Linked DNA regions of Homo sapiens. The protein of the gene in region 1 purifies or fractionates together with the protein of each later gene. This does not show direct contact. Each region holds a gene or a part of one and is shown in the gene's direction. Other genes may lie near its edges.

What was found.
Region 2: the proteins of KLHL28 (region 1) and AKAP11 purify together in Homo sapiens (affinity purification with mass spectrometry; 2 studies listed by BioGRID and IntAct, with this or other methods). This does not show direct contact.
Region 3: the proteins of KLHL28 (region 1) and NUDCD3 purify together in Homo sapiens (affinity purification with mass spectrometry; 2 studies listed by BioGRID and IntAct, with this or other methods). This does not show direct contact.

Annotation. Positions count from the first base shown.
Region 1 is NC_000014.9:44,958,948-44,966,844, reverse strand, and holds the start of KLHL28 (kelch-like protein 28), read left to right. Parts: upstream 1-4,897; 5' UTR 4,898-4,999; exon of another isoform or gene 5,000-5,248; intron 5,249-5,359; exon of another isoform or gene 5,360-5,916; coding exon of another isoform or gene 5,917-5,958; intron 5,959-7,897. Other genes in the region: TOGARAM1 (TOG array regulator of axonemal microtubules protein 1), read right to left, coding at 2,378-4,423.
Region 2 is NC_000013.11:42,317,152-42,323,787, forward strand, and holds the end of AKAP11 (A-kinase anchor protein 11), read left to right. Parts: intron 1-376; coding exon 377-537; intron 538-1,936; coding exon 1,937-2,077; 3' UTR 2,078-6,110; downstream 6,111-6,636. UniProt on the Homo sapiens protein: Binds to type II regulatory subunits of protein kinase A and anchors/targets them.
Region 3 is NC_000007.14:44,487,633-44,494,716, reverse strand, and holds the start of NUDCD3 (nudC domain-containing protein 3), read left to right. Parts: upstream 1-4,058; 5' UTR 4,059-4,116; coding exon 4,117-4,308; intron 4,309-7,084.

The DNA of each region.
Region 1 (7,897 bases):
TAGCTGGGACTACAGGCCTGCACCACCATGCCTGGCTAAGTTTTTTTATTTTTGTAGAGATGGGGATCTCACTATGTTGCCCAGGCTGGTCTCGAACTCCTGGCCTCAAGCAATCGTCCAAATGTTATGTTAAGGAAATAATCAAAGACTAAAGAACAGTCATGTTAAAAGGACACAGGAGCCAGCCACTAGTTAAATTTGGGACAATTTTATCATGAAAAAGTTAAAAAAAATTTAGTAACAAAAAATAATATGTAATTATTACACATACAAGAAAAAAAGAATTGCAGGTAGTAAACAGAGAAGAAATGTCACAATTTTTTAAAATTACTCTTTTTGTAATTAATTTATTTTAGTATTATTATTATTTTTGAGATGCAGTCTTGCTCTGTTGCCTAGGCTGGGGTACAGTGGTGTGATCTCAGCTCACTGCAACCTCTGCTTCCTGGGTTCAAGTGATTCTTTTGCCTCAGCCTCCCGAGTAGCTGAGATTACAGGTGTGTGCCACCACACCCAGCTAATTTTTGTATTTTTAGTAGAGACGGGGGTTTCACCATGTTGGCCAGGCTGGTCTCCAACTCCTGACCTCAGGTTATCTGCCTGCCTCAGCCTCCCAAAGTGCTGGCATTACAGGTGTGAGCCACCCTGCCTGGCCTTTGTAATTTAAAAATTACAATTTGGGCTGGGTATGGTGGCTCACGCCTGTAATCCCAGCACTTTGGGATGCCGAGGCGGGTGGGTCAGGAGTTTGAGACAGGCCTGGCCAACATGGTGAAACCCTGTCTCTACTAAAAATACAAAAATTAGCTGGGCGTGGTGGTGGGAGCCTGTAATCTCAGCTACTCAGGACACTGAGGTGGGAGAATCGTTTGACCCTGGGAGACAGAGGTTGCAGTGAGCTGAGATTGCGCCATTGCGCTCCAGCCTGGGCAACAGGGCGAGACTCCATCTCAAAAAAAAAAAAAAAAAAAAAAATTACTATTTGTAAGCCCCCAGTGTAATAAATGATACAGGTAAAGACCATTGGTGGATGCTAAACACAGTGGGTGAAAAGTTGTCGGGGTATTCTTAGGGTCTCAAAGTATCACTGTACTGATTATATGCTAATTCTAAAGAGGAAAATATACCTTTACAATGGAGAGATCTGGCTATTACCACCTTATCCAAACAGTAAAATTAAGCATCACCAGTGATGGGACAGCCTGATATCATTTGCCTCATAATGTAATGTACTGTGAAGTTCACACTACTTATCTTCTACTTAATATATATGTATCTCCTATGTAATATTTTCCTAAAAATATTTATTTTGAATCTAATCAAGTAAACATATAAATGTAAAACTTGGGACATTCTACAAAACTACCCCAAACTCTTTTTATAAAAGGCCAATGCCATGAAAAAACAAAGAAACAAACAAGTAGGATATTATTCTAGATAAAATTACAAGGGACATTAACCACATGAACCCTGACTAGATCCTGGATGATAAAAGTAAAACAAGAAATATAAAACACTTTTGGAGACAATTTGGGAAATTTAAATACAGGCTGTCTGTTACATATTATTGAATTACTACTGATAGTCTTAGGTGCAATAATGATTTATGGTTATAAAAGAAGAATGTCATTCTTAGGAGATATATGCCGAGATATTTAGGAGTGAAATCTCAAGATATCCACAATTTACTTTCAAATGGTTCAGCAAATATGGAGGAAATATGTCAAGATGTTACAACTGGTAAATATAGATGAAGTATATGGGTATTCATTGTACTCTTACCTATAGATTTGGAATTTTTTAAATAAAAGCTTTGGGGGGAAAATCTCAGTTCAAATGTTGTATCTTCTGTGGAGGCTTTTTCTTTTTCCTTTTTTTTTTTTTTTTTTTTTTACTTTTCTAGTGGAATTAGTTTTTCTGTCTTCAGTATTCCTGCAGGACTCTTTATATTTCTACTTTAGCACTTAACGAATTTGTTAACTGCTAATTCCCAGGTCTGACCTTTTTCCTATACTGTGTGAAACTGGCCTCATCTTCATTCCCAGAATTTAGCTCTTTATCTGGCACGTACTAGGTATTCAATGTTTGTTGTATGAATGAGATAAACTGACATGCTACAGTAACTAAAACTGAATCTTGGTATTGTCTATATCACATGTGTCTCAAATTTAATTAAATCTATCAAGCAGGAAGCCTATTAAATGGTCCTTTGTGATCTGTACCATTATAATGAGTACCAACATTCAGATGGATTTAAAATCAATTTAAAACAAAGCATAACATGTTTCCCTCAAGCAGGCTGACCCTTAAGTCATCACGGGCATATTTTCATTTAAATTCTTCACACTTTCGACTCAAGAAAATTAGAGAAGCATACCTGCTCTATATCCTTGGAAGTGGAGGTCTGGTTTTCTCCCATGATTCCAGGTTGCTCATTTTCCCATGGTAATTTATTTTTTCCTTTTCCTGCACTTAATACCCTTCGGGTACAGATAGTTGGGCTGTAAGATCCATAAATGTGCATGCTATCCCTCACGTGGTCACCACAGTGACAGTGTGCACTCTGAGTTCTGTTACCAGCCAAAAGCCAGTCCGTATCTGCTCCATGTGCCAAATGGTTTGACCTACCCCCGGCAGAAGATGGCATCAGTACTGCATATTCCACAAATCCCTGCTCTGTGAGCCTTGGTAAGGTTTTCCTAGCCAATCTGGCCTGCACAGCATTCATCACTCCATCTCCATTATCTTGCAGTTCAACTGTATCCACAGCTTTAAAAAGGATGCTGGTTTTACCTGAGCCCATTGATGATGCCAATACGGCAAAAGCTTCTAAAGCTGCTTGGCGTACCCTGCGTTTGCTATCTACAAGAGCTGGGGCAAGATCAAAGGACAGTTTGGGCAAGTCAAAATCCTCACTAGGATAGGTCAGCAGGGAGCAGATGCAAATGTTCACCACCTCCTCTCTCACTCTGGAATGCTTATGTTTGAGATGTTCCAGGAGTAAACAAAGCACCTGCTGAGGTCCTACTTCCTTCATTAGCTTGAGGAAGATTTTCATGTATTCTTGTTTGATCACCAACTTGTTGTCCGCCAGCACTTTGACAGAAGCTGCTATAACTGGTCCCAAGAACTGCTGTACCTGCTCTCCAAGGCGAATAACCAGTAAATGCAGGACTTCAAGTGTGCCATGCACCACTTTGAAGTTAGAATCGTCTAACAAATTATATAGCAAACTAATGAAGCCAACAAGACTAGAATGAGGAGTAGAACTAGGGTTAAATTTTCCCAGCACCTGCTTTAGTTCTTCGACGGCCTGGGTCCGGTTCTTATAGTCTTCCTGATCCAATAATCGTGAATGCAGCTCCTGAGGAATAATCCCAAATTTAAGATTGCTGTTGGAAAGAGTCACTGCACAGGGAAGGGGATCTTCAGGAAATCCAGAGGCTTCAAGTTCCAAATAATAAGGAACCTGACTTCCAAACTGGGACTCCAGGCGGCGATTGTAGTGTCTCCTCAGGGCAGAGGGCAGACGAGAAATGTAAGATTGAAACCTGTCTTGGCCAAGTCGCTCCCCAATTTGTTGAAGTGCGGAGAAAGCTGTCTCAGATTCTTCTTCTGTCTCCTGATCACCAAGCTTTCGGGCTAGGGATATTATCACCTCGGTGAGATCCAGACCAAGCAACAAGTCCTCAGTAGTAAGCAAGATGGGAAGCAGTAGTGCTGTGGAAGCTCTAAGTCGGGCATCGGTACTTTCCAGTCCTTGTTGTATAAGCGTTCTCAGCACCTCTCCAGGACTACGTTTCAGACATATATGAAGGATCTGCAGCGCATCTTTCCGCAGGGCTGGATTCTCTTCCCGTAACGAGACAACTAGTTGAGGCAAAAGTGCTAAGCTAAAGGCCTCTTCAAGCTGGCCTGCCTCCCCCTGACCCCGGAGAACGTCCGAGAGAAGTTGCAAGCAGAGCCGCTTCTCATCACTACCTCCTTCCACAAGCACTCGGCCCAGTGCCCGATACAAAGCTTCCTTGCGTCGGGGGAAGCCAAGTCGACCGCCCCGCCGCGGCAAAGCAGCTTGCAAAGCCTGGAAGGCCTCAGAAGGATCCCGGGCAGTGCGGAGGAGTTGAAGGAGCCGAGTGTCCTCTTCATCTCCCCCTGACAAACCGCCTCCAGACTCAGACCAGCTGCTTGAGACTGCCTCCGAGGGCATCAAGAGGGCCGAGGCCAGAGGCGAAGTTGTAGTGGGGCAGGAACCGTGGTCCCCCGCAGCTCCACGGAAGTAGTAGTTTTTCTCTCCTCTCATAATGCCCCCAACTCGACTATCATCGGTCTCTGGGGCGGAAGGACGACTGCGGCTCTGGAGCCGATAGGTAGAGAGGACTGGAAAGGGCGGCAGCAGAAGCAGCGCGGAGGGGGCAGCCGCCATGCAGGGTTGTCAGGTGGTGGTGGTTGGAAGAAACCATTGCCGTCTCCAAAGGGCTCGATGGAGCCCAGACTTCCAGATCCTCTCCAAGCCCCAAGCTGCAGAAGAGGCAAAAGAACAGCTTCAGCCTGCCGCCAGGCCGCCCCCAACTCCGGGAGGCAGCCTCTGGCAAAATGGCCCCCGTCTGAGCCCTAGACCCCACAGCTGCCACCGGGCGTAACCAAGGGCACCACGTGACCAAACCGATTGCTTCCATGGTGATGTACCCAGCGCGGACCTCTTGACCCGGAAATCCACTTGCCGTGATGAATGCTGGGTTATGTAGTCCACGTCAGGTGTTGAGACTAGGCCAAAGTCTCCTGGAAGAGGAAGTCAGAACGTTGTAAACGCAGCTACAGCGGAGAAGGGAGGAGGGGTGAAGCCATTTGACGGATGTGACGCTTTCCTTGCTCTGGGCGGAAGTTGCCCGCCCCACCCGTAAGAGTTAGGGTTTGACCGGAGCTAGTGAGGATCCAGCCCAGGCTCCAGTTGTCCGCGGTTCCTCCTCCTGTCGCTGCCCGTGTGATTACTGAGACTCAGGTATTTTCCTTTTGCTGTCCTCCAGCGGTGCAGGCTTTGGCAGTGTTTTGCCCGAATGCCACTGGTGCTAGAGTAAGAGGCAAAGGACTGAGCGGAGCAGGTGGAAAGAGAGGCGACATCTTCTTGTGCAGGGCTCGTCACCCTTGTAAACGCGTTACTCTCTACCACCCTGAGTAACTGCGATCCTTTCCTCTTGCCATCTGCTTATCAGGACAGAAGATCTGGACCACGGCCAAGCTCACAAATCGGGTATTTTTTTTCAATTCCTGGTCTTTGGGGCCTTTATTCGCCTCCCCCTTCTCCTTTTGTCGACTTCTCTTAACCCTCCGGCCGCAGAGGGTTAATTTTTTTTTGTTTTTGTTTGTTTGTTTTTGGCAACGTTTCCTTACCCTCATCACTTTGCGTTTTCTTTACAACGTACATAATATGGAAATAGGTCTGTTTTTTTCCCCCTGTAGCTAACCGCCTCTCCCTTAGACGTTATCAAAATCTTTCCTTCTAATGCAGTTCCTCTGTGGGACTCTCCCCTAACCTCCGCCCCCTCCGTCTGCCGCCCTAGCCTCCCTGCAGGATCCTCAAGCGTCTCTGCAGCCTTTCAGTCTCCTAGAGACAGAGATTGCGAAGACAATTTCACTTGCGGTGGAAGTTCTTGGCATCATGGTTCTAAGAGAATTCTGCCTTGTGGATTTAGGAATGATAGTAGACATTTATTTATTTTAGGCGAACTGAGAATTTTGTGTGCATTTTCTCCTCATAAGTGATACTTAAACGGACACAGTGGAAGAGCTGGAGTGTCTAGTGTGAGCCTGAATGCTTTGGAGTGTGGAAGAGATATTTTTTTTTTTTGAAGGAATAATACTATTACTTTTGAATGACTCGTGCGAAAAGTCTAAGTTATCATTTGAAGACCCAAATTTATGCACTTCAAATGCAAGTATTCCTACCCTGCTCTGTACCAGGTGGGATTTCTCTTAAATACTTTTTAAAGTCTTGGAATAAATGAGTCACATATGCCAAACAGCTTTATAAATAATGCTCCCAGCTGATGCAAGTGCAAAAATAATTTCTGGATTTTTGCCTTAAAGTACGATTTGAATATCAGTTTTGTTTTGTTTTGTTTTTGGGGGGGTGGGGGTGGGGAATAGACTATAATGTAAATGAGGCTGTGTAAATATACATCCTATGTTTTGGTTTAAATTCTAGGCTGTTACTTTGGTTTTAATGAGCCATTTTCGTGTTTAAATGAATCTGCCTAAATTAGGTTTAGCTAGCATGTTTCATTTTAGGGACAGGTTAAAGACAGGGAGGTGAAAAACAAGAAATGATTGTAGCAGTTGTCAATGAGAAAGTGTCTGGTTCTCACAGTTCCAACCTAAGAAGCTCAAATGTGTAGACTTCTAGTCATGTATTGCCCAGACTTGAGGAACCCAGTTCAAACTAACCTAGACAATGATGTACACATTACAGTGCCAGTTTATGTTGGATCAGAATTTTCAAGTTGAAAATCCAGTGCACTCTTTCTTGTATCCAAGAACTTGGGAAGCCAAGTTAATAACTAGAGGTTGTGTGGTAATCATGGAATCACAGAAAAGGAACTTCGAAAGTCTTAAATGAGAGACGTGGATACTTAAGCAGTTATCATGCCCTTTTCCTGGGAACAAAGCAAGATGAGTCTTCCTTTTGATTCTTGTTTTTTTAGATCCCTGTGGATCACTATACATTACAGATTGCAATTTATTTTTTATCTGTTACATTTTGTCTCTTTGATTGAAGACTTAGAAGAGGCATTAGTCTCCATAGTGGATATTTAGGAAATGGGACTTCATCAGCATCACGTCTTACTGATTATCTTTTAGAGTTATTTTGTGGAACATAAATCTCATTCATTGAGTGTGTATTCTTTTTATTACGAAGCAGATTTTTTTTAATCTTTGGAAATCTAGGAATTTCTCGTATATTGACTTAAAAAGCCTTTTGTATTTAATCATATATAGAGAGAGTACAAATTTGTAATCAATTTTTAGATAGTAGAATACACTATTAGGTGTTTTATTAATAGTACACCTCAGAAAGTTAAAAGGAAGTGGTTAAGGATACATTGAAAATTGCAAATTCAGCTAAAACAAGTTTAAAATTTCAATAATTTCAAGAATGTAGTTAAATTAGTGAATTATAGGAATGTGTGTGCTACATATGTTAATTTTTTTAGCTGAACTTAAGGGTAAACACAATTGCCCTAAAAACTTACTTTATTTCCAGAATCAGAGATAACACATTAGTTCCCTGGGCGAATCACTATGATTTTTCTGTGTTCTTACTCAAATTTTACAGACATCCAGGAATATTGAACGTCAGTGTGAATTCTGTAAACTATTAAGAATTTTGTGTAGTTTGAGAAGTTATTGTGAAGAAATGCTATGCAAATGAAAGTTGCTATTAATATTAACAAACAATCATAATAATACCATGTTTTGAGTATTTGCTATGTGCCATGCACCATGCTAGGTACTTAGTAAATATTAACTCATTTAATCCTCACAAGAATTTTTTGAGGTTACATCTTCTACATTTGGACTATGGAACATTTTATGGGTGTTTCCACAAAAGAGTAATTGGACAGAGGAAGAAAGTAAAACTCACATTTGCTTAGAGCTTGGAGAAGGTTTTGGTGGAGGTCACTGTTGAAACTTTAGGATAAAATTAGATTTTTTCCATTATTATTCATTTATTATATATCATTTGATTATATATTTTTTAATTTATTATTTTTTCTTTCAATCCTTGGTTGAAGATTATATATATTTTAATCTATCCTTTTTGGATTTCTATTCAAAATATTTTTAGTTTCTTGTTTGAGGTAACACTTTAATAAGTTAAGAAATTATGAGCTTATTTTAT
Region 2 (6,636 bases), on another chromosome or scaffold:
ACAGGCCTGAGCCACCATGCCCAGCCTCATTTTTATTTTTATTGTAATGATAGCTTTATAGTTTTATTTTCTCTCTAACCCACTGGTCATAATTTATATCAAATTATGGCATTTATAGAACTTGAATTCAGTATGTTAAAATGATGTTTTATATTTTTGCAATCAATAAATGATCAAAGTTATTCCTTTGTTTTACATTATTTTGCCCTTTAGAAGTTTTAGTTGAGGTTATGGTGTGGTTAGAAAAAGATGGATATTTTTTTCACCATTCATTAGAATCCTAAGAACCAGAAAATATTTGTATCTACTTGACAACCAGAGTATTGAGAGTTAAATTGATGAGTTTTACTTTATATTGTTTACATTTAAATATTAGGTTTGGGGCAAGATGGAAAGACACTGCTAATTACGAATATTGACATGGAGCCATGCACGGTAGACCCCCAGCTAAGGATTATTCTTCAGTGGCTCATTGCCTCTGAGGCTGAAGTTGCAGAACTTTATTTTCATGACTCTGCAAATAAGGAGTTTATGCTAGTAAGTACCTACCTTACAGAGTGTGAGGATACATTTAACAGTATATGATGTTCTTGTCATGTGATTGGTCTAACAAGATGCCTGGTGATGGTTAAATTCTTAGGCTGTAGTGTCCAACAGTTTGGGTTCAGACATCAGCTCTGCCACTTTCTAGCAGTATAACCAGAGGCAGGTTCACCAGTCTGTCTCATTGCCCCTAACTGCACTATGCAAATGAATATAGAATCTACCTTACAGGGGTTTATGAGGATTAAATATAATGTTAAAAAAAATGCTTGGTCTAATGCCTGGCATAACACTAAGCTCTCAAAGGTAGATGCTATTAATAAGCATTGTGTGTGTTCCTATGAAAAAATTGAATTATTCTCTGTATTTAATTGATTTGTAATTGTACCTAATGATTAATATATCTGTTTCTCTGATAATCCAGTTTCATTTGTATGAGCAGCTGTCATAATTAAAAGCCGATAAAAGTTTAAACAAGATGCTTACTATGTGCCAAGTACCTTATTAGTCAAGATTTTCAGTTTACAGTCTTAAGGTTTTTGTTCCATAATTTTCTTTATCAGAACTTTCCTTTTGGGGTGGTAGAAATATTCGAATTGTGGTGTTGGTTGCATTCAACTTGGAGAACATACTAAAAACCATTGACTAGGACACTTTGGGTGAATTGTATGTTATGTGAGTTTTATCTCAATAAAGCTGTTTTTAAAAAGGTTAAGCATATATATGTTACACAAAATTAAAGTAGTTTTTCAGAATTTAACTTACAGATCTTTCAAAACTTAAGAGCTTTTACAGAACTTAGTAGAAAAAGAAATGAACAAAAGCATGTCGTGAGTGGTGACAACAGGATTTATTTAAACCTGTATTTATTTATTTATTTATTTGTTGTTTTGTTGTTGAAACATTAACATTCTTTAACTTAGAAAGCCATGTTTCCATTGAGGCTAGAGTGTGTATTCCAGAAAAATGCCACACTATATGTTGTGGAAGGAAAATCCACATCCTTTTATTGAGTTTGACGTTGTCTTTATTATTTTATGTCCTAATTGAGGGTGTGGCAGTTGTATTTAGTTAGGTGAAGAATTTCCTGTAGAAACTCAGCCTCTGCATGTCCATGCAGACTATTTGCTTGGTGAGGTTTGTGGAGCTCTGTCTCCAGCGATCCCAAAGTGTCATTCTCTGGAGGAGATGTGTTTATAAAGGGGAAGAAGGGAAAATGTTTAATTTGGGTAAAGGGGTAGCGGTTTAGAGGGGAAGACCTTGTTATAACTAGGAAACGGTATTTAATTGTAAACAGCAGGATTCTTAAGTTTCAGCTAATATTGAAAATAAAAATAAAAGCTTTGTTATAAAATTGTTTTTGGTTAATGTTTGACACATCTTTCTTTCTTAGCTTTCAAAACAATTACAAGAGAAAGGATGGAAAGTGGGAGACCTCCTGCAGGCTGTGCTTCAATACTATGAAGTGATGGAAAAAGCTTCCAGTGAGGAGAGATGCAAGTCGCTGTTTGATTGGCTCTTGGAAAATGCATAGAGCAAACCCCAAACCAGTATATTTTAGTATTTGTTTGGGGAGGGGAACAAGCCAATAAAGATGTTTAGGATAAAATTTGAATAGTGAATATTAACATCGTAAGTCAGTTGGGAGGCAAGTAAATATAGCTTTCTGAGCGCTTTGTGTTATCACTCGGTGTATATAGTTCATACTTTTGTAATCTGTCAAAATACTACCTTCATTTATTCTTCTATACACATGTGTAGTGTGTCAAGACCCTAAGAACATGTATTTGAAGGAAGGTCTAACCAGGGGGTTTTCAGGGGCATTGTCTGACCACATTCTTTTTGTATCCAAATAGTGCTGCTAGAAACTGCACTGAAGTGGCTGAGGATAGGTTCCAGTGATAGAGTTATAATTTTGCTCCTTTGCAAACAAATGGTATCTAATTAATAACTAGTCTGACATCAGAAAATAAAATTGAGGCTGATTTTTAAAAATTTCTAGTAGATTTTTGGCCTTTCCTGTTTTTAAAAATCAGTTTCATTTTCATATTTCATAGATCAGCTATTGGTAGCTTTTTGATTTCCCCAAACTATTTAATTTCTTAGCAGAAACATTAGTATTTTAGGTTTCTATAAACACTATAAGTGATAGTTTCCCCCATCCTTTCATTGACATTATTTGCCAATGCTGCCAGTCATTCTGGCATGAAAGGTGTGTGTGTGTGTGTGTGTGTGTGTGTGTGTGTGTGTGTGTGTAAGGGAGTACTTTAACCTTGCCAGTTTGTTCCCTCTTTTATTTTACTGTTTTCTTTTTAGAAACCCACTGTTAAAATTTAAAAAGGTGCTTTAAAATAAAACGCCTATAAAGATTGTGCAGTAAGAATTTTTATTGACAATAATTAAAATTTTTTTTGACAATTTTGGGTTCCCAACTTATCTTACAAGTGAAAACTTAAATTGTAAAACATGTTGAAATTTTAAAAATTAATGTTAATATGGAAATGCATTTAGAGAAGCCCAGTAGTTTTTATTGTTGGATTTTTGAAAAAACCTCTACCAAGAATGTGGTGTTTTTTTTGTTTGTTTGTTTGTTTGTTTTAGAAAAATTGGGATTTCCCCCCACCCCGCCCCACCCAGATAAACTATATCTACACTGTCTCGTCAAGTTCTCTGACACGATCTTTCTGGGCTCTACATTTCCTACTAGTTTGTGTCCAGAAACTGCAAGTTGACATGAATAGAGGACAAAGGTTGTGTCTTGCTTTTGTCTCTCTCTTCCCTCCCTGCAACTCTCTCTCCCCTCCTCCCACTCTCTTCCCCCTCCCCCCTCCTCCCACTGTCTCTCACCTCCCCCACCCCCCACTCTCTCTCATCTCTCGCTGTGTCCTGTGTATGTGTGGGTGTGTGTGTATTTGGGTGTGTAAATGTTGGTTCTTCCACTACTGGATTTTGTAATCTAGGATAAATCACTTTTTTTGGGGACTTTGATTTTGCTCCATTACGTTTTCATTTTTTCTGAGCACTGACTGTTCTGAAAGCTGCACAAAACGTAGAAAGAAGACATAGCGCCTGCCAGGGAATAGGAAATGAGGGCACTTACACATTAATGTGAATTAGTAATTGTGGTATAGAAATGTTTTATAGTGAAAGATTCAAATTTGCTTTTCAAGAAAAATGCCAAAAGCTATTTAAATAATTCGAGGTTACATCGTAGGTTTTGATTTTTCTCAATTTAAGATACAGAAATACAGCAAGCCTTAATATAAAGTTTCCTAAAGTTTCTTCAAGTATTTTTTAAGGTGGAGAAATGCAGGAATTGTATAACCAGAATTGTTCCTGCCTTTAGCTTTTCAGAACTTGAGATGTGGCAGCACTGGACTGGGTTTTTTTAAATGTTAGGACTAGGAATGTTTGCTCTTGTTAATTATGAATTAATTGATTATTAAGTTTAGAATGCATTTTTACAAGTATCTAACTATCAAATTGTGTTTAGTAACTTGAGTGTATGCACAAGTTTGATCAACAGCAAAATAGAGTTCTGAATTTCTTTTAAAGTGATGATATATTATTTTGTGAAACTTTGTGTTTGAAAATGTTTATTTCTGTTTATGGTGTAATCATTCTGAGGTGAGGCTTTTCTTATTTCCTTTGCATTTTGCTAGAGCTGTGCTGAGTTCAGCATTTGCTTATTTAACCACTACATAATGACAGACCAGTTATTAGGTATTAGCATGTGTGGTAATAATAATAGTGGAACTTCACACTTACATCAATTCAGTGCAGGGGCATAGAATAAAATATTAAATATTGGCAGATGTATGAAAAGAAGTGTGAGTTAAAAATATTGAATATTGGCAGGTGTGAAAACAAGTGTCAAAATTCCTCATATAGAGAAAATAATTTTGAGTTTAGAGTATTATCTTTTAATTAAGTGTAGTCTAAACTTAACTTTCTGTAAAGGCACTTTGTGGTTTTTCCAAAGATGTTCTAGATCTATTTGGTTGCTCTATAGTCAAACAGCTCTTTTGAAGACAACTGTCTTATTTTATTACAAATTGGCTTGACATATTTATACTGTAACATTGTAATATTGCTGTGCTGTACATTTTGGCCCTTACGAAATACGTCTTTTTCAGAACTGTTAAAGTTTTGATGTACATCGAGCTGAATTCTGTTTTTACCAGTTTCAAAACCTTCAAGTGATATGTGGAAAAAAGTGAATGAGACCTCTGATAGGGGGTTTTCAGAACCTTGTTCACACCAAAATGTGACAGTTCTTTCATGTTTTCCTAAACCAAGTTAAAATTACATGTATATTTTGGTGTTAAGGTTGATTTTTAAGATACTTCTGATTTGTACAAAAGGAATGTTTCCTTTATAAATCACAGAAGAAAATGACAATATCTGTTGGATATTTGATATAATTTAATGGTGTTATAAAACCTTTAAGAGGATTCATGGTGAATATATGTGATAACATCTTTATACTTTGAAAAATGTTCCACTTACCCTTCAGATATTTGTTGTAAGTTAATTCAATTCTTAATACTTTAATTTTGCTCCAACAAGGGCTTTATGTTGCTGGTAAGAGAATTTATTTACTAAATGCACTATGTATAAAGTGAAAGATAGTTTACTTATCTGACTTTGATATTAGATGGCTGACATTAGTGCACATAATGCAGAGTTTAACCTTGATTCTTCAACAGAGTCCAGATTTAAATGTCTACTTAGTTAATTAGTTAGCTGATATTCTTCCACAATTAATATATTCAATTTCCCATCAGTATATCACTTTAAATTTTATGTTTTTCTAAGGAAACTTTCCACAGAATTTTAAACAACTGATGCATCCATACTCAGGGTGTAGGGAGAATACTTTGCATTTAAAAACCCTGTCCACCTGTCACCAGCACAAGAGAATTAGAGCTTCAGTGAGAATTTAGAAAAATTATACTAAAGTGAGATGCATTTTTTCTCATTTTCAGCAAGACTCCTCTAAGCATTTACTCATTTACTGTATTCCTGCTCTGAAGATGTGGATACAGAATTAGTCACTCTTGTCACTTTATTTATTTATTGGTTTTTTTTTAACCATCTGTGTACATTCCTTTCATAGGGTAGAGTTCTAGTTCTAGAAGTTCTTATTTTGTTTTTGTTGTAATGTTTGAATACTATTTAATATCCGGTTTTAATATTGCTGGATTTGCTACCTTTGGTTACTTGTGCAGTGTTAAAAGTAATCCACTTTCTTGTTTAATATACCAGATACATAGCAAAAGCAGCTTGGAATAATTATAGCTGTTTATTTGGCTGTGCTCAGTTACTATATTAAGATCTTGTACTGTGTAACAGTAACTCTTTTTTGCTTTTCAGTAATTTAATATGTTCACTTAACAAAATACGAACTTTGAGATGCACTAAAGTTTTGTTTCAGCAGTGGCTCAAAAAATTTCAGAAATTACTTTTGTAATTATTTGCAATTAATTGTTCTTTTATCTTACAATTGTTTAAGCCTGTGATCTTTCTTCTCCCAGCTAAGAGTTCTTCAATAAATTTAAGAAATACCTGGTCTTGGTTTTCATTCTATAATATCTCATTAACTGCTCTGTACTGAGTGGGACTGCTATGACAGAAGACCACATAAGAGGACTGAAGTGCTAGATCATGGTTTTGAGAACAAGAGAAGTTAGAAATATTTCCAATTGGACACTAGATTCTACCTACTTATAGATACCCCAAATGCAGACATAGTGACTTAAAAGGCTGGTTGCCCAACCTGTTTTTGCAAAGTAGAATATTATGGTTGCCTTGAATATGAACATGGCTATGAAATTCTTCTGGCCTGGTTTGAACACTCTTTCCATAATAAGACCATACCTCTGTTAAACCATGTACACAAGATAACTTAAAAGCTGCTGGGTTTTTTTTTTTTTAATTACTAATGGATCTGACTTTGTCTTAAGAATTTTTTTCCTTTTAAATAGACCATTTTTAGAGCACTTTTATTTAGATGCACAGCAAAATTGAGCAGAAAATACAGAGCTCCCGTATACCCTCTTTGCCCAGCCTCCTTCGGTGTCAACACCCCAC
Region 3 (7,084 bases), on another chromosome or scaffold:
ATGTAGATTTCTGTATGGACATAGTTTTCAAATAAGCTGGGTAAATACATAAGAGCATGATTGCTGGACTGTGTTATGACATTATGTTTAGCTTTCCATTCAATTTAAAAGATATTTTGGCCGGGCACGGTGGCTCACGCCTGTAATCCCAGCACTTTGGGAGGCTGAGGCGGGTGGATCACAAGGTCAGGAGATCGAGACCATCCTGTGAATGGTGAAACCCCGTCTCTACTAAAAATTCAAAAAATTAGCCGGGTGTGGTGGCGGGCACCTGTAGTCCCAGCTACTCGGGAGGCTGAGGCGGGAGAATGGCGTGAACCCAGGAGGCGGAGCTTGCAGTGAGCCGAGCTGAGACTGTGCCACTACACCCCAGCCTGGGCGACAGAGCGAGACTCTGTTTCAAAAAAAAAAAAAAGATATTTTATTTACTTTTTGAATAGGTAATGCATGTATATGGTATCAAATACAAAAGTAAGTTTTTCTCCTGTTTTATAGTGTTTCCCTCAATTTCCCTTCTCCAGATGCAGCGTCTGTTCCATTTCTTCCTTTAGGTGCTAAAGAAAATTATTCAAAACTTTGAATATAGCAAGAAGATGACTGCATGTGCTTCCAGTTATACTGAGGAATTATATAACAGGCTCACCCGAGATTCATTAATTCTCTAGGGCAGTGATTCTCAGAGTGTAGTATGTGGCCCTGGGGGGCCTCCAAGGTAAAAATAACAATACTATGATGTTATTTGCTTTTTTACCATGTTGACATTTGCAATGATGGTGCAAAAGCAATGGCAGGTAAAACTGCAAGTGTCTCAGCAGGAATCAAGGCAGGCCATTGTCCTAGCTTCCTGCTGTCACAAAGTACCATAGACTGGGTGGCTTAAACAACACATGTTTATTCTCTCACAGTCTTGGAGGCCAGAAATCCAAGACCAAGGTGTTGGTATCTGGTGAGAATTCTCTTCCTAGCTTGAAGCAATCTCACTGTGTCCTCACATGGCCTTTCTTCTGCATGTGTGCAGAGTGAGATCTCTAGTGTCTCCTTCTCCTCTTATGAGGATACCAGTTCCATTGGGTTAAGGTCCCACCCTTATAACCTCATTTAACCTTTAAGTATCTTTTAAAGGCCCTTCTAACCACCAATGTGACTCCAAATATAGTCCCATTGAGGACTGGGGCTTCAACATATGAATCTGGTGGGGGGCAGGCACATTCAGTCCATAACGGCACCAAACTCGACTAGTATGCACTGCCTTACACTTACAGGTTAAAAATGTTCAGTTTCACTTAAGAATGCTCCTGATAGCATTTAATTATTAATTTTATTAAAAGTTGTTTTATTAAAAGTTCTCCACTTGAGAACAAGTCTTTTTAATAGTGCATGATTAAAAGAGAAGTACACATAAGACATGTCTGCCTCATACTGAAGCAAAATGGTTGCACTGATGCAAAGCACTTGTGTGATTGAGTTGCCAATTGAACAAGTCACAGAGCATCATTTTTACTTGAATGACAGAATGAAGTGAGCCTGTCTCTTCAAGGAAAATAATTGATTGTATCTACTTCCAATAATAAAGTTCAAGTTTTTAAGCTAAAATTAGAATTCAAAAAACCCATATCCCGCTTCCATGAGCTTGAGTGCTTGTCAATAAAGACAGACTTCTCTGATGAGTTTAGTGGTAATTCTAACAAATGTTATTTTTTGATATTATATAATGAAATGATATTAGAAACCAAGATCTGGGGGCAAGATATGCTCGTTGCATAAAACGAGTGAACATTTGGAAGAGCTGCATAACACAGTGGACCAACATTTTCAAATGACTAATTAATACATGATGGTATAAAATCATGCATTTATTAACGATCCATTCAAAGTGAAAGACCAATCGATATTAATGTAACAGAGTATGAAAAGTCTATAGATACAGTTTTAGATTCCATATGGCAAGTAACCTTTAAGAAACTACCAGTTACAGGGCTGGGTGCAGTGGCTCACACCTATAATTCCAGCACTTTGGGAGGCTGAGAGGGGAGGATCGCTTGAGCCCATGAGTTTCAGACCAGCCTGAACAATGTAGGCCCAACCTCGTCTCTATAAAAATAATTTAAAAATTAGCCAGGCACAGTGGCATGTGCTTGTAGTTCCAGCTACTCAGAAGGCTGAGGCAGGAGGATTGCTTGAGTTCAAGAGTTCAAGGCTACAGTTAGTTATGATCACATCGTTACATTCCAGCCTGGGTGACAGAGGGAGACCCTGCCTCTTAAAAATAAAAAAAATAGAAACTATCGCTTGTAGAAGAATTTTGATGTCATTTTAAAGACAAATAGCCACATTTATTTGAAAAGACAAAATATTCCTCTCATTTGCAACTGTCTGTGTGAGGTTGCATGTTTTCATATACTTCAATGAAAACAACATAATGCAAATTATGTTGCAGTGAATGCAGATGTGAGAATCTTGTGGTCTTCTTTTTTTTTGTGGAGACGGAGTCTAGCTCTGTCGCCCAGGCTGGAATGCAGTGGTGTGATCTCGGCTCACTGCAACCTCTGCCTCCCGGGTTCAAGCGATTCTCCTGCCTCAGCCTCCAGAGGAGCTGGGATTACAGGCACCTGCCATCACGCCTAGCTAATTTTCGTATTTTTAGTAGAGACAGGGTTTCACTGTGTTGGCCAGGCTGGTCTCGAACTCCTGATCCTCCCGCCTCGGCCTCCCAAAGTGCTGGGATTACAAGCATGAGCTACTGTGCCGGCCAAATCTTGCTGTCTTCTAGTAGGCTCATTAAAGAGATTTGCAAAAATGTAAAACTATGTTACTCCTCTCACTGAACTTTTATTGCTTTGAAGAACATTATTTTTTGCATAAAAGTATGTTAACATGTAATGTGTTTTATGGTCATTTAAAAATGATTAAATAAATATTTAAACATTTTATGTTTTAATTTCTAATGTGGTAAATATTGATAAGCATAACCCATATCAACAAATGTTCTTTGGAATGTTCAACAAATTTTAAGAGGATTAATGGTCCCTAAATCAAGAGTTTCAGAACCACTGTTCTAGGGCAATTTACCTGAGTTGGATTTTATTTACAATTCATTAAAGCTTATACACTATGAAGACATGTTAACTTGCATGTTTTAATCTAGAAGAGGTGCAAATCATTTCTATACACTAGAAATGATAATCTATGGTTTTATCATCTTGTAGAACACCAGCCAGCTTTGTATCCAACCTAATCTTACTCTAATGCTTTGTCAAAATGTTTAATCTCCACTTCCTCAAAATGCTTTTGAACCAGCTTTACCATATCATTGTTAATTTGCTGAAGAAATCTTGGATATGTGTTCATGATATATTTGTATGAGTGTCATGCTTTTTACTTTTTTAAGATTATACTTTGACAGACACTAACAACATATGTATATATGACGTATATATGTATATACATACTATACACACACATACACGTACATATTTCACAACGATGGCATACGGATTCTCTATTCTGAATCTAGCTCTTTCCACTTAATATACGTTGAATGCACTCTTTATTTTCTTCGTCATCTTGACTTTCTTCTGATGCAACGCCCTGAGTTTAACTCACAGATCTGTTAATAAGAAACCCATACATCCCACATATACGCATTTTCCCGTCTCTGGCTCACTAACAAAAAGCTTACCCTAGCCCCATCTTTAACCATAGGTTCCAAATACCCAGGCTGGAATTCAACACAGAAATAAGAAAGGATCCACAGACAACGTGACAAAAATCCGAGCAGTCACGTGACACTGCACGCCCCATAATTTTTTTCCGCCCGCTTCAAACATGGCGGTCAAGCCCTCGCAGCGCAGCAGAAGCCACGGGCTTCCTTCCGCGTAGGAACCTCCTTGCTGCCCTTGTCGGGCTCTTTTGTCTAAGACCACCTCAAGGCAAAGCCCGTGGGGCAGCTGGGTCTGGGGAAAACAGCCCGGGGCCGCGGGGGCCGAACGAGCACGGACCGGAAGTTCCGCAGCCGCGCCGTCCGGCGGAGCCGTTGGCTGCGGACGCCGGAAGTGGCCAGTCGGCAGGTCTGAGGCGGCGCTGTGTGTGTGAAGCGTACCTAGGGCGGGAGGCGACATGGAGACAGGGGCGGCCGAGCTGTATGACCAGGCCCTTTTGGGCATCCTGCAGCACGTGGGCAACGTCCAGGATTTCCTGCGCGTTCTCTTTGGCTTCCTCTACCGCAAGACAGACTTCTATCGCTTGCTGCGCCACCCATCGGACCGCATGGGCTTCCCGCCCGGGGCCGCGCAGGCCTTGGTGCTGCAGGTGAGGCGGGCGGGCCTGCGGTCTGGGGAGCCGCCGCCCCCGGCCTGCCCTGACTCCTGGCGCCCGCTCCTCCAAGCTCTCCCAGCCTGTTTCCTCCTTTTCCTGGTGTCCTGGGGTTGAGCTTGTGAGAATGGCTTCAGTAATTTGAAGCGCGGATTGGATGTCAGCTTATTCCGCTGAGGTGTTCGCTCCGGACGTCCTGAGGTTTCAGAAGTAGTAAGCCGACTGTTAAGAGCCCTACTCAGCACCCGCCAGCGCGTACCCCTCACGGTGCTGGGGGCCGCTAGTCAGGGAGCGAAATCCATGCAGGCCAGACAGAAGGAAGGACATTTACAGCAACAGAAACGTGCATGCCCCAGAACTACCAAAGACTTGAGCTGGCGGGGATGACGGAGGCATTGTGTTGATCAATGGGTGTGGTCGCTTGTTTGAAATGTGACTTCCCAGGTCAAAGACTGTCAATGTAGTGCTTATTAAAATTTCTATTTGAGCTTAATTCCGTACCCTCCAGGTTAAGTTTATTGTATGTTGGAAACGCTGTCAATACTCATTCAGTGAAGTTGACTGGGCACTTTTGAATGTAGTGGTAAGCAACCTTTTGCTGAATGTAGTTTACACTCTTAGTTGCCGCAGGTGAGGGTGATACGGGTGTTTAAGTAATGGTTTCTCTCTCCTTGTGACACAGTTAAAGAGAGAAAACCCAGAAAGTAATAGAAAACTTTTTAAGGGCAATTATTTGATGGAGCCCATTGTAAAGAAAGGAAATAGAAATGATGGTTGAGAAGTGAAGTTTTTATAAGAGAGGTGGGACTTCTGATGAGATTAAAAGAAACTATTCAGCCAAGTATTAAGCCTATTTGTAGAAACCCAAGAAGATAGAAATGCTGATGATACCTCCCTCAGTTCTCTAGATGTTACAGTTTATAAAATGCTTCAGATGTTTCCTCCTGAAGTCTTAATGCATGCTGCAGGTTGGTAAGATGTTACTTTCCTCAGCAGAAGCCAAAGCTTTGAATGTCTTGGTAGCTACCAGGGTAATAGGGCCAAACGAGGAATGGGGTTCCATTAGGATTCAATTTCAGAACTTAAGGCTATTCCTCGTCCTTGTCAGTGGCATAAGTGCCATCTTAGTGATGAGAGAGCTGTTGGAGGTGGCCTTTAGCAGGATCTTATGGCAGGTTAATGAAGTCTTGCCATTTGATCTTCAGTGTCTCTGTGAAACAGATAAGTTTCAAGTTTACGTACCAATTCAGCAAGGTTAAGTGATTTGACCAAGAACACACAGCCAGTTCACCGTAGAGCTGAAACTAAAAATTTCATTTTGTGGATTCCAAATCTTCCTGTTCTGTTGTTTAACCATTCCATAGTAGGATGAGAACACTTTTGTCTAGATTGATTGTAGTTTGCAGAAAGATGTGGAGGAGAAAGGAGTATATACTGAGTAATATGTATAGTATCAGATGTTTTATATTCTGGGGTCGTTATCTTATTTAACCCTTAATATAACCTGAGAGGTTGGTCTTTGTTTCACAGATGAACTGACAGAGCACTCATTAACCTGGTAACTCATTTACCTGGTAACACCTCTTACAAGACACTTCCATAGGTTAGGATTTGGTGACCAGTCTAATGAAGTAGTGGAGATGGGGAGCAGGGATGGAGGAAGGGGAGGGATGGGTCAAAGATGATCCAAGGTTTCAACTTGGGTGACTGGAATAGTGATAATGCGTTAACTGAACTGTCACCTGGGTTTAGGGGAAAAAGTTCAGTTTTAGACAGGTTGAACTTGAAGTTGCAGGTAGGAGTCCCTGCCCATAGGCTATTGGAATTACTGGACTAGATCTTTTGGGAGCTAGAGCAACTGGAGTGGTCCGAGGGAGAGAGAAGAGCCAAAGGTGAAGAACAGGCCTTGGGGAATAATCTTGGTGGAGAGCAATAAGTTTCACAGAAACCAAGGGGACAACAGTCTCCAGCAGATGCTTAAGAGAGGTGTCATGTTTTCTGGAAGTGGTTCTCAACCATCAGCATCGCTTAAGGAACTTTTTTCTTTCTTTTTTTTTTTTTTTTTTTCCTGGAGATGGAGTCTCACTCTGTCGCCCAGGCTGGAGTGCAGTGGCATGATCTCAGCTCACTGCAACCTCCGCCTCCTGGGTTCAAGCAATTCTCCTGCCTCAGCCTCTCGAGTAGCTGGGACTGCAGGTGTGCGCCACCACGCCCGGCTGATTTTTGTATTTTTAGTAGAGATGGGGTTTCATCATGTTGGCGAGACTGGTCTCAAACTCCTGACCTTGTGTTCTGCCTGCCTCGGCCTCCTAAAGTGCTAGGATTACAGGTGTGAGCCACTGCGCCTGGCCAAGGAACTTTTAAAAGCACATATTCCTGGATATTTTGGTTGGGTAGATCAGGGTGAATCCTGGGAACCTGTTCTTTTTTTTATTTTTTTATTTTTTATTTTTGAGATGGAGTCTCATTCTGTTGTCCAGGCTGGAGTGCAGTGGCGCAATCTTGGCTCACTGCACCTCCTCCTCCCAGGTTCAAGTGATTCTCCTGCCTCAGCCTCCCGAGTAGCTGGGTTTACAGGCATGTACCACCATGCCTAGAGAATTTTTGTATTTTTAGTAGTAGAAATGGGGTTTCACCGTGTTGGCCAGGCTGGTCTTGAACTCCTGACCTCAGGTGATCACCCGCCTCAGCCTCCCAAAGTGCTGGGATTACAGACATGAGCTACTGCACCTGGCTGGAACCTGTTCTTTTATCCACAAAAGCTCATTTGACA